4 separate regions of the Homo sapiens genome follow, and all the other regions are linked to region 3. The links come from fine-mapping of genetic effects on gene expression. A gene starts in region 3. Each other region holds a variant in brackets. All regions are shown on one strand. Distances are between the middles of the regions. Region 1 has its middle 17 kb from the start of EFNA3. Region 2 has its middle 13 kb from the start of KRTCAP2. Region 3 holds the start of MUC1 (mucin 1, cell surface associated). Region 4 has its middle 8.3 kb from the start of KRTCAP2.

Evidence for each region.
Region 1: its variant is fine-mapped to the expression of MUC1 in whole blood (TOPMed, PIP 0.94).
Region 2: its variant is fine-mapped to the expression of MUC1 in transverse colon (CEDAR, PIP 0.95).
Region 4: its variant is fine-mapped to the expression of MUC1 in whole blood (TOPMed, PIP above 0.99). The same link has a PIP of 0.9 or more in subcutaneous fat.

The regions. Positions count from the first base shown.
Region 1 is chr1:155,094,766-155,097,510 of GRCh38, reverse strand. No RefSeq gene overlaps it. Among named protein-coding and RNA genes, the nearest start is that of EFNA3, 17 kb to the right of the region's middle. The variant A/G (reference allele first, on the strand shown) is at 1,437.
Region 2 is chr1:155,159,129-155,161,873 of GRCh38, reverse strand. No RefSeq gene overlaps it. Among named protein-coding and RNA genes, the nearest start is that of KRTCAP2, 13 kb to the left of the region's middle. The variant C/ACC (reference allele first, on the strand shown) is at 1,284.
Region 3 is chr1:155,191,679-155,194,178 of GRCh38, reverse strand. MUC1 (mucin 1, cell surface associated) reads left to right here and starts at 1,270. Exons shown (of 12, transcript NM_001371720.2): 1 at 1,270-1,393; 2 at 1,869-2,500. The coding sequence starts at 1,336.
Region 4 is chr1:155,163,647-155,166,391 of GRCh38, reverse strand. No RefSeq gene overlaps it. Among named protein-coding and RNA genes, the nearest start is that of KRTCAP2, 8.3 kb to the left of the region's middle. The variant C/A (reference allele first, on the strand shown) is at 1,473.

The DNA of each region.
Region 1 (2,745 bases), 97 kb after region 3:
ACTGCAAACTCCACCTCCCAGGTTCACGCCATTTTCCTGCCTCAGCCTCCCGAGTAGCTGGGACTACAGGCGCCTGCCACCGCGCCTGGCTAATTTTTTGTATTTTTAATAGAGACAGGGTTTCACTGTGTTAGCCAGGATGGTCTCGATCTCCTGACCTCGTGATCCGCCCGCCTCGGCCTCCCAAAGCACTGGAATTACAGGCGTGAGCCACCGCGCCCGGCCAATTTTTGTATTTTTAGTAGAGAGAGGGTTTCACCATGTTGGCCAGGCTGGTCTCAAACTCCTGACCTCAAGTGATCCACCCACCTCAGCCTCCCAAAGTGCTGGGATTACAGGCATGAGCCACCGCACCCGGCCCCACCTGCTTTAAACAACTAAAACACCTGACAGACTATATGAAACAGTGATTCCAGACATAGGACAACAGGCAGAATGGGGAGGGCTGTTCTTGGGTGTTCCACCTTAGACCCAGGAAGAGTAGTCGCTTCTTGTATCTGCTATTCCTGATTTTTTTTTTTTTTTTTGAGACAGAGTCTCGCTCTGTCACCCAGGCTGGAGTGCAATGGCAGGATCTCGGCTCAATGCAACCTCTGCCCTCCCCAGTTCAAGCAATTCTCCTGTCTCAGCCTCCTGAGTAGCTGGGATTACAGGCACCCGCCATCATGCCCAGCTAATTTTTGTATTTTTGTAGAGACAGGGTTTCACCATGTTGCCCAGGCTGGTCTTGAACTCCTGACCTCAGGTGATCCACCTGCCTCAGCCTCCTAAAGTGCTGGGATTACAGGCATGAGCCACTGCATCTGGCCCCCTATTCCTGTATTCATTTAGAGTTCTGTTTATTTCTTACTAGCCAATCCCTTCTAACCTCAATTCCTTGTTAAGTTAATACCTTTTTACATTAGACTGCATGTGGTGGGTCACACCTGTGATTCCAGCACTTTGGGAAGCTGAGGTGGGAGGATTGCTTAAGTCCAGGAGTTCCAGACCAGCCTAGGCAACATAGGGTGACCCTCTGTCTCTACAAAAGAAATGTAAAAATTAGCCAGGTGTGGTAGCACACGCTTGTGATCCCAGCTACTCAGGAAGCTAAGGCTGGAGAACCACTTCAGCCCAGGAGGTGGAAGCTATGGTGAGCCATGATTGCACCACTGCATACCGGCATGGGTAACAAAGCAAGACCTTGTCTCAAAAAAAAATTTTTTTTCTTTTTACATTAAACTTTCCCTGTTCAAATTGCTGTGTGGTTTCTGCCTCTTGACTAGATACTGACTGATACATGGGACATCAAGTAGAGTCATCAGATGATACTGCCTCAGTGGTGAGAGCAAATTAGCCTTAGACCAAAGGCTATTCTCCTCTTGCCAAATGGTACCTAAAAGCACACCTTAAAAGGATCAATCTGTTTCCAAGGAACTTAACTAAGTCCCTGAACG[A/G]GGCTCAAATATATTCAAAGGAATACAAAAAAATCTAGCACCAAACAACATAAAATATACAATGTCTGGCATCCAATCAATAATTACCAGGCATGCAAAGACACAGGCAAATAATGACACAAAGCTGACCCAGAAATGTCACAGAATTAGTAGACAAGGACTTTAGCTCCAATAGCTATTATTAAATACCATCCATATATTCAAACAGATATGGAAAAACATAAACACGATGTAAAGAGGTGTGAAGATATAAAATAAGACCTCAATTGAACTTCTAAAGATGAAATGTATAATATCTGAGATGAAAAGTATACTGGATGGAAATAAAAGCAGATTAGACCCTGTAGAAAACAGGTTTTTGAAGACTTAGCAATAGAAACTATCCAAGATGAAACACAGAGAGGAAAAAAAGACTTAAAAACAAAAAACAAAAAACAAAAACAAAACCTCCAAAACCAAAATCCAGAAAATCAGTGAGCTGTGGAATAACAAGTAGCCTGTATACCTGTTTGGAGACCAGAAACGTGGGTCTAACAGATTCACAGGAGAGATGACAGAAAAAATATCTGAAGGAACAATAATTTTCAAATTTGATGGAAACTATAAATCCCTATGTCGAAGAAGCTCAATAAACCCTAAGCAGAAGAAATATGAAGACAACTACACCAAGGGTACATCATAATCTGCCTTAATCACTGCTGAACACCAGTGATAAAGACACAAATCTTAAGAGCTGCCAGAGGAAAAAAACACATTGTGTAAAAAGGAAAAATAGAAGTGATTTCTCGTCAGAAACAATGCAACCCTGAAGACAGTGGAGTAATGTCTTTAAAGTACGAAAAGATAAAAACTGTCAACCTAGAATTCAGTGGAGATATCTTTCAAATAGGAAGATGGAATAAAGATGCATTCAGACATTCCAAAATTGAAAGAATTCATCATCAGTAGACCTGCACTAGAAGAACGGCTTTAAAAAGTCCTTCAAGCAGAAGAAAAATGATACCAGATGGAAATCTCCGTCTACACAAAGGAATGAAGAGAGCTGGAAATGGTAAATATGTGGGTAGATAGAAAAGATATTTTTCTGATTTTAAAATTCTCTTTAAAAGATACTTGAGGGTTTAGAGCAAATCTAATAATGTATTGTGGGGCTTATAGCATGTGTAGAAATAAATCCATGGTGACAATAGCACAAAGGCGGAGAGGTGGGGAATGGGAGGAAGGTGTTTGCGCTGAGTGGTGTGATATTACTTGATGGAGATAGACTATAAGTTAAAGAAGCATTGTGTAATCCTAAAAGAACCACAAA
Region 2 (2,745 bases), 32 kb after region 3:
TGAGTGAGGTGGCTCATGCCTATAATCCCAGCACTTTGGGAGGTGTGGGCGGGTGGATCACCAGAATTCGGGAGTTTGAGACCAGCCTGGCCAACATGGTGAAACCCTGTCTCTACTAAAAATACAAAAATTAGCCAGGCATGGGCCGGGCGTGGTGGCTCATGCCCGTAATCCCAGCACTTTGAGAGGCCGAGGCGGGAGTATCACGAGGTCAGGAGATCGAGACCATCCTGGCTAACATGGTGAAACCCCGTCTCTACTAAAAATACAAAAAATTAGCTGGGCATGGTGGTACGTGCCTGTAGTTCCAGCTACTCGGGAGGCTGAGGCAGGAGAATGGCATGAACCTGGGAGGCGGAGCTTGCAATGAGCCAAGACCGCACCACTGCACTCCAGCCTGGGTGACAGAGCAAGACTCCGTCTCAAAAAAAAAAAAAAAAAAATTAGCCAGGCATGGTGTCGCAGGCCTGTAATCCTAGCCACTTGGGAGGCTGAGGCAGGAGAATCACTTGAACTGGGGAGGCGGAGGTTGCAGCGAGCTGAGATTGTGTCACTGCACTCCAGCCTGGGCATCAGAGCAAGACTCTGTCTCAAAAAAAAAAAAAAGAGAGAGAGAGAGTGAAAGATTAGTATTTAAATATTTAAATTGGTAGGGTTTAGGTAAAGCAGATTGCCCTCCATCCATGATGTGATTGGGTCTCATCCAGTCAGTTGAAGGTTCAAACAGAACAAACGACTGACCTTCCCTGAGCAAGAGGGAGTTTAGAAGCACGTAGCATTGAGACTTGAACTGAACCTTGACTCTTCTCTGGGTCTTCAGTCTGCCCACAACCCTGCAGATCTTGGATTTACCAGCCTCCATAATGGTGTGAAACAATTCCTTTTTTTTTTTTGGCAGAGATGGGGTCTCACTCTCACTTAGGTTTGAATGCAGTGGCACTGTTATAGGTCATGCAGCCTCACACTTCTGAGCTCAAGTGATCTTCTCATCTCAGCCTCCCGACTAGCTGAGACTACAGGCAAGCACCACCAGGCCCAGCTAATTTTTTATTTTTTATTTTTTTGTAGAGACGGAGTCTTGCTATGTTACCCAGGCTGGTCTCAAACTCCTGGGCTCAAGTGATCCTCCCACCTCGGCCTCCCAAAGTGCTGAGATTACAGGAGTGAGCCACTGTGCCTCTCCCTCTCTTTCTCTTGCCATATACATACACATGGAAAGAGAGAGAGTTCCTGAGGGGCAGCACCAGGATCACACACACACACACACACACACACACACACAC[C/ACC]CTATTGGTTCTGATCATCTGGAGAACCCTTGACTAATACACCCTGTTTCAGTAAAATGAAATGGGGTTAAATGAAAGAAAGGCTAATCTGCTCAAGATTATACACAACCGATAAATGAAGGCGGAATTGGAGTTCACATTCAGATCCATCTGTGCCCACCATGTTGCTTAACCAGCATGACTACAGTGCATGGTTACAACACACCATCTGGCTCCTGCCACCTCTCTGATGTCGCCTCCTTGCTCTCTTCCCCACACTCACTCCATCCTGCCCCCAGACCCTGCATGTCCCCTGTGCCAGGCACGTTTCCACCTCGCGGCCTTTGCACTTGCTGTTCCTGTGCCTGAAACGCTTTCTCAGCAGATATCTACACTTCTCTCTTCTGTATGTCATTCAGGTCTCTGTGCAAATGTCTCCTTCTCAGACAGGCCTTTCTGATCGTGCTATATGACACAGTACAGCCTGTCACCTTCTAGCCCCTTACCTTGCTATACTTTTCTTCATAGTACTTTTCACTACTTGGTGAATATATGTTATTTTTATTTTTAGTAGAGATGAGGTCTATGTTGCCCAGGCTGACCTTGAACTCCGGCCTCAAGTGATCCTCCTGCCTTGGGCTCCCAAAGTGCTGGGATTACAGGTATGAGCCACTGGGCAGGTTTAGTTGGTATATTAAATGTTTATTTTTGTCTTGTCTGTCTCCCATCACTAGAGTATAAGGTTCATTGAAGGCAGAGAATTTGTCTATTTTGTCCACTAGAATGCTGTTTGGCATAGAGTAGGTGTTCAACAAATGTTTATTAAAAGAAGAACCAAGGGCCAGGTGCCGTGGCTCACGTCTGTAATCCCAGCACTTTGGGAGGCTGAGGCGGGCAGATCAGCTGAGGTTGGGAGATCAAGACCAGACTGACCAACACGGAGAAACCCCATCTCTACTAAAAATACAAAATTAGCTGGGTGTGTTGGCACTTGCCTATAATCCCAGCTACTCGGGGGGCTGAGGCAGGAGAATCACTTGAACCTGGGAGGTGGAGTTTGTGGTGAGCCGAGATCGCGCCATTGTACTACAGCCTGGGCAACAAGAGCAAAACTCTGTCTCAAAAAAAAAAAAAAAAGAAGAAGAACCAAGAACCCCATTGGCAACACACCACTCTTGTACTTTGAGCCCTTTGTTGAAACTCAACTTCTACCCTGCATCAACTCCAAATTGCTGAATCCTCAGAATGATCCAGATGTTTTTCTCAGCTGCTCAGACCTGTTCCTGAGTCTGTCCACCTTCAGGCTATCATATTTTCCCATCTTCGTCTCTTGTAGCTTACCTTCTCTAGGAAACCCTGACTCACCCAGCCCCTTCTCCACTACTCCCCTTTTAAAAGTTTGTCTGTGTTTTTGTTAATTGCATGTGCTTTTGTCCTGTTGCCCTATGGAACTGTGGGTGCCCTGAGGGCAGGGATGAAGTCA
Region 3 (2,500 bases):
CGCCCGCCACCACGCTCGGCTAATTTTTGTAGTTTTTAGTAGAGACGAGGTTTCACCATCTTGGCCAGGCTGGTCTTGAACCCCTGACCTTGTGATCCACTCGCCTCGGCCTTCCAAAGTGTTGGGATTACGGGCGTGAGCCACCGTGCCACGCCCGATCTGCCTCTTAAGTACATAACGGCCCACACAGAACGTGTCCAACTCCCCCGCCCACGTTCCAACGTCCTCTCCCACATACCTCGGTGCCCCTTCCACATACCTCAGGACCCCACCCGCTTAGCTCCATTTCCTCCAGACGCCACCACCACGCGTCCCGGAGTGCCCCCTCCTAAAGCTCCCAGCCGTCCACCATGCTGTGCGTTCCTCCCTCCCTGGCCACGGCAGTGACCCTTCTCTCCCGGGCCCTGCTTCCCTCTCGCGGGCTCTCGCTGCCTCACTTAGGCAGCGCTGCCCTTACTCCTCTCCGCCCGGTCCGAGCGGCCCCTCAGCTTGCGCGGCCCAGCCCCGCAAGGCTCCCGGTGACCACTAGAGGGCGGGAGGAGCTCCTGGCCAGTGGTGGAGAGTGGCAAGGAAGGACCCTAGGGTTCATCGGAGCCCAGGTTTACTCCCTTAAGTGGAAATTTCTTCCCCCACTCCCTCCTTGGCTTTCTCCAAGGAGGGAACCCAGGCTGCTGGAAAGTCCGGCTGGGGCGGGGACTGTGGGTTTCAGGGTAGAACTGCGTGTGGAACGGGACAGGGAGCGGTTAGAAGGGTGGGGCTATTCCGGGAAGTGGTGGGGGGAGGGAGCCCAAAACTAGCACCTAGTCCACTCATTATCCAGCCCTCTTATTTCTCGGCCCCGCTCTGCTTCAGTGGACCCGGGGAGGGCGGGGAAGTGGAGTGGGAGACCTAGGGGTGGGCTTCCCGACCTTGCTGTACAGGACCTCGACCTAGCTGGCTTTGTTCCCCATCCCCACGTTAGTTGTTGCCCTGAGGCTAAAACTAGAGCCCAGGGGCCCCAAGTTCCAGACTGCCCCTCCCCCCTCCCCCGGAGCCAGGGAGTGGTTGGTGAAAGGGGGAGGCCAGCTGGAGAACAAACGGGTAGTCAGGGGGTTGAGCGATTAGAGCCCTTGTACCCTACCCAGGAATGGTTGGGGAGGAGGAGGAAGAGGTAGGAGGTAGGGGAGGGGGCGGGGTTTTGTCACCTGTCACCTGCTCCGGCTGTGCCTAGGGCGGGCGGGCGGGGAGTGGGGGGACCGGTATAAAGCGGTAGGCGCCTGTGCCCGCTCCACCTCTCAAGCAGCCAGCGCCTGCCTGAATCTGTTCTGCCCCCTCCCCACCCATTTCACCACCACCATGACACCGGGCACCCAGTCTCCTTTCTTCCTGCTGCTGCTCCTCACAGTGCTTACAGGTGAGGGGCACGAGGTGGGGAGTGGGCTGCCCTGCTTAGGTGGTCTTCGTGGTCTTTCTGTGGGTTTTGCTCCCTGGCAGATGGCACCATGAAGTTAAGGTAAGAATTGCAGACAGAGGCTGCCCTGTCTGTGCCAGAAGGAGGGAGAGGCTAAGGACAGGCTGAGAAGAGTTGCCCCCAACCCTGAGAGTGGGTACCAGGGGCAAGCAAATGTCCTGTAGAGAAGTCTAGGGGGAAGAGAGTAGGGAGAGGGAAGGCTTAAGAGGGGAAGAAATGCAGGGGCCATGAGCCAAGGCCTATGGGCAGAGAGAAGGAGGCTGCTGCAGGGAAGGAGGCGGCCAACCCAGGGGTTACTGAGGCTGCCCACTCCCCAGTCCTCCTGGTATTATTTCTCTGGTGGCCAGAGCTTATATTTTCTTCTTGCTCTTATTTTTCCTTCATAAAGACCCAACCCTATGACTTTAACTTCTTACAGCTACCACAGCCCCTAAACCCGCAACAGTTGTTACGGGTTCTGGTCATGCAAGCTCTACCCCAGGTGGAGAAAAGGAGACTTCGGCTACCCAGAGAAGTTCAGTGCCCAGCTCTACTGAGAAGAATGCTGTGAGTATGACCAGCAGCGTACTCTCCAGCCACAGCCCCGGTTCAGGCTCCTCCACCACTCAGGGACAGGATGTCACTCTGGCCCCGGCCACGGAACCAGCTTCAGGTTCAGCTGCCACCTGGGGACAGGATGTCACCTCGGTCCCAGTCACCAGGCCAGCCCTGGGCTCCACCACCCCGCCAGCCCACGATGTCACCTCAGCCCCGGACAACAAGCCAGCCCCGGGCTCCACCGCCCCCCCAGCCCACGGTGTCACCTCGGCCCCGGACACCAGGCCGGCCCCGGGCTCCACCGCCCCCCAAGCCCACGGTGTCACCTCGGCCCCGGACACCAGGCCGGCCCCGGGCTCCACCGCCCCCCCAGCCCACGGTGTCACCTCGGCCCCGGACACCAGGCCCGCCCCGGGCTCCACCGCCCCCCCAGCCCACGGTGTCACCTCGGCCCCGGACACCAGGTCCGCCCCGGGCTCCACCGCGCCCGCAGCCCACGGTGTCACCTCGGCC
Region 4 (2,745 bases), 28 kb after region 3:
CTGCCCTGTGCGCACTCCTCCTTGACTTAGGCTTACTAGGATCTGCCTCCCAAGCAAACAATGGTGGGACTCTCACATAGGCACAGTTGGGGCACTTAATAGCTCTGCTTTAGGTACCTTTCTTTGCTTTTCTCCCAGCAGCCTGGAAGTTTCTCAGGGGGCAGTGCCGAGATCGGGATCAGGTTCCCAAAGCCACTCCCGCACCTCCCACCCCCAGGGCTGAAAGCCAGCTGGCCACATAGAGGTTGCTCTGTAAATGCTATTTGGTTGAGTTCCTGCAGAGGCAGAGAGAGAAGCCCCCCAGCTGGCCTTATGGTTAGGCATCCCATCACCTCGGGTGAAGGGTCAGGTGGAGGAGGCCTGACCACTGGCAGGAGGCAGAGTTCAGAGCTTTGGGCAGGGTTTGAAGAGCCAGCTGTTCCCACCCCAGCCTCTGCAGGGGGCCAGGGGCAGGGTGGGAAACGACCCACAGATCTCAGCAACTGCTCCCTTGGAGACACGACTTCTGAAAGATGGAGAGAAGTCTAGGTCCCTACTGTCTGTGGAGGTTTCAGATACACTTGGAAATGAGAAAAACAGGCACGTTTACGTTTGATAAATTAACACATTTTTTTTTTGGAAGAGCGTTTTTCCCAGGCTGGTCTCAAACTCCTGGCCCCAAGTAATCTTCCTGTCTAGGCCTCCCAAAGTGCTGGGATTATAGGCGGGAGCCACTGCACCCAGCCAGATTAACACTTTTTCACACAAAATTACAATACAATTATGCTATCCACAAGATTTATTTTTGTTTTTATTTTTTTTGAGACGGAGTTTTGCTTTTGTTGCCCAGGCTGGAGTGCAATGGCACTATCTCGGCTCACCGCAACCTTCATCTGCCTCCTGGGTTCAAGTGATTCTCCTGCCTAAGTCTCCCAAGTAGCTGGGATTATAGGCATGCGCCACCACGCCTGGCTAATTTTGTTGCATTTTTAGTAGAGATGGAGTTTCACCATGTTGGCCAGGCTGGTCTCGAACTCCTGACCTCAGGTGATCAGCCCATCTCGGCCTCCCAAAGTGCTGGGATTACAGGTGTGAGCCACTGCACCTGGCTATCCACAAGATCATTACAGAATTTATAGAAAATTTTCCTTTACAGGGTACTGCAGGTCCTATTTTATAAAGTCTTGTGACAGGAACTTAAACAAATTTACAAGAAAAAAACAAACAACCCTATTAAAAAATGGGCAAAGGGGCTGGGCTTGGTGTCTCACGCCTGCAATCCCAGCACTTGGGGAGGCTGAGGCAGGCGGATCACGAGGTCAGGAGTTCGAGACCAGCCTGACCAACATGGTGAAACCCTATCTCTACTGAAAATACAAAAATTAGCCAGGCGTGGTGGTGCGTGCCTGTAATCCCAGCTACTCAGGAGGCCGAGGCAGGAGAATCGCTTGAACTCGGGAGGTGGAGGTTGCAGTGAGTCGAGATTGAGCCAC[C/A]GCACTCCAGCCTGGATGACAGAGCCAGACTCTGTCTCAAAAAAAAAAAAAAAAGCCTCCAAAAGTGGGCAAAAGACATGAACAGACACTTCTCAAAAGAAGACATACATGTGACCAAAAAACATATGAAAAAAAGCTTAACATCACTGATCATTAGAAAAATGCAAATCAAAACCACAATGACACCATCTCTTGCCACTCAGAATGGCTATTAAAAAGTCAAAAAACGTCCGGGCATAGTGGGTCACGCCTGTAATCCCAGCACTTTGGGAGGCCAAGGCGGGTGGATGTCTTGAGGTCAGGAGTTCCAGATTAGCTTGACCAACATGGTGAAACCCTGTCTCTACTAAAAATAAAAAATTAGCCAGGCATGGTGGTGTGCGCCTGTAATCCCAGCTACTCGGGAGGCTGAGGCAGGAGAATCGCTTGAACTCAGGAGGCAGAGGTTGCAGTGAGCTGAGGTCGTGCCACTGCACTCCAGCCTGGGTGACAGAGCGAGACTCTGTCTAAAAAAAAAAAAAAAAAAAAAAAAAAAAAGTCAAAAAACAACAGATGCAGGCAAGGTTGCGGAGAAAAAGGAACGTTTTTACTCTGTTGGTGGGAGTGAAAATTGGTTCAACCATTGTGGAAGACAGTGTGGTTATTCTTCAAAGACCCAGAGGCAGAAATACTATTTGACTCAGCAATCCCATTACTGGGTATATATACCCAAACGAATAGAAGTCATTCTGTTATAAAGATACATGCACGTGTATATTCATTGCAGCACTATTCACAATAACAATGACATGGAATCAACCTACATGCCCATCAATGATAGACTGGATAAAGAAAATATACACCATGGAGGTACATATACACCATGGAATACTATGTTTATATACGCCATGGAATACTATATACACCATGGTACATATACACCATGGAATACTATGCAGCCATAAAAAGGAATGAGATCATGTCCTTTGCAGGGACATGGATGGAGTTGGAAGTCATTATCCTCAGCAAACTAACACAGGGACAGAAAACCAAACACCACATGCTCTCACTTATAAGTGGGAGCTGAACGATGAGAACACACGGACACATGGTGGGAACCACACCACTGGGGTCTTTCAGAGGGATAGGGGTAGGGGAGGGAGAGCATCAGGAAGAATAGCTGATGGATACTGGGCTTAGTACCTGGGTGATGGGATGATCTGTGTAGCAAACCACCACGGCACACATTTACTTATGTAACAAACCTGCACATCCTGCACATGTACCCCAAACT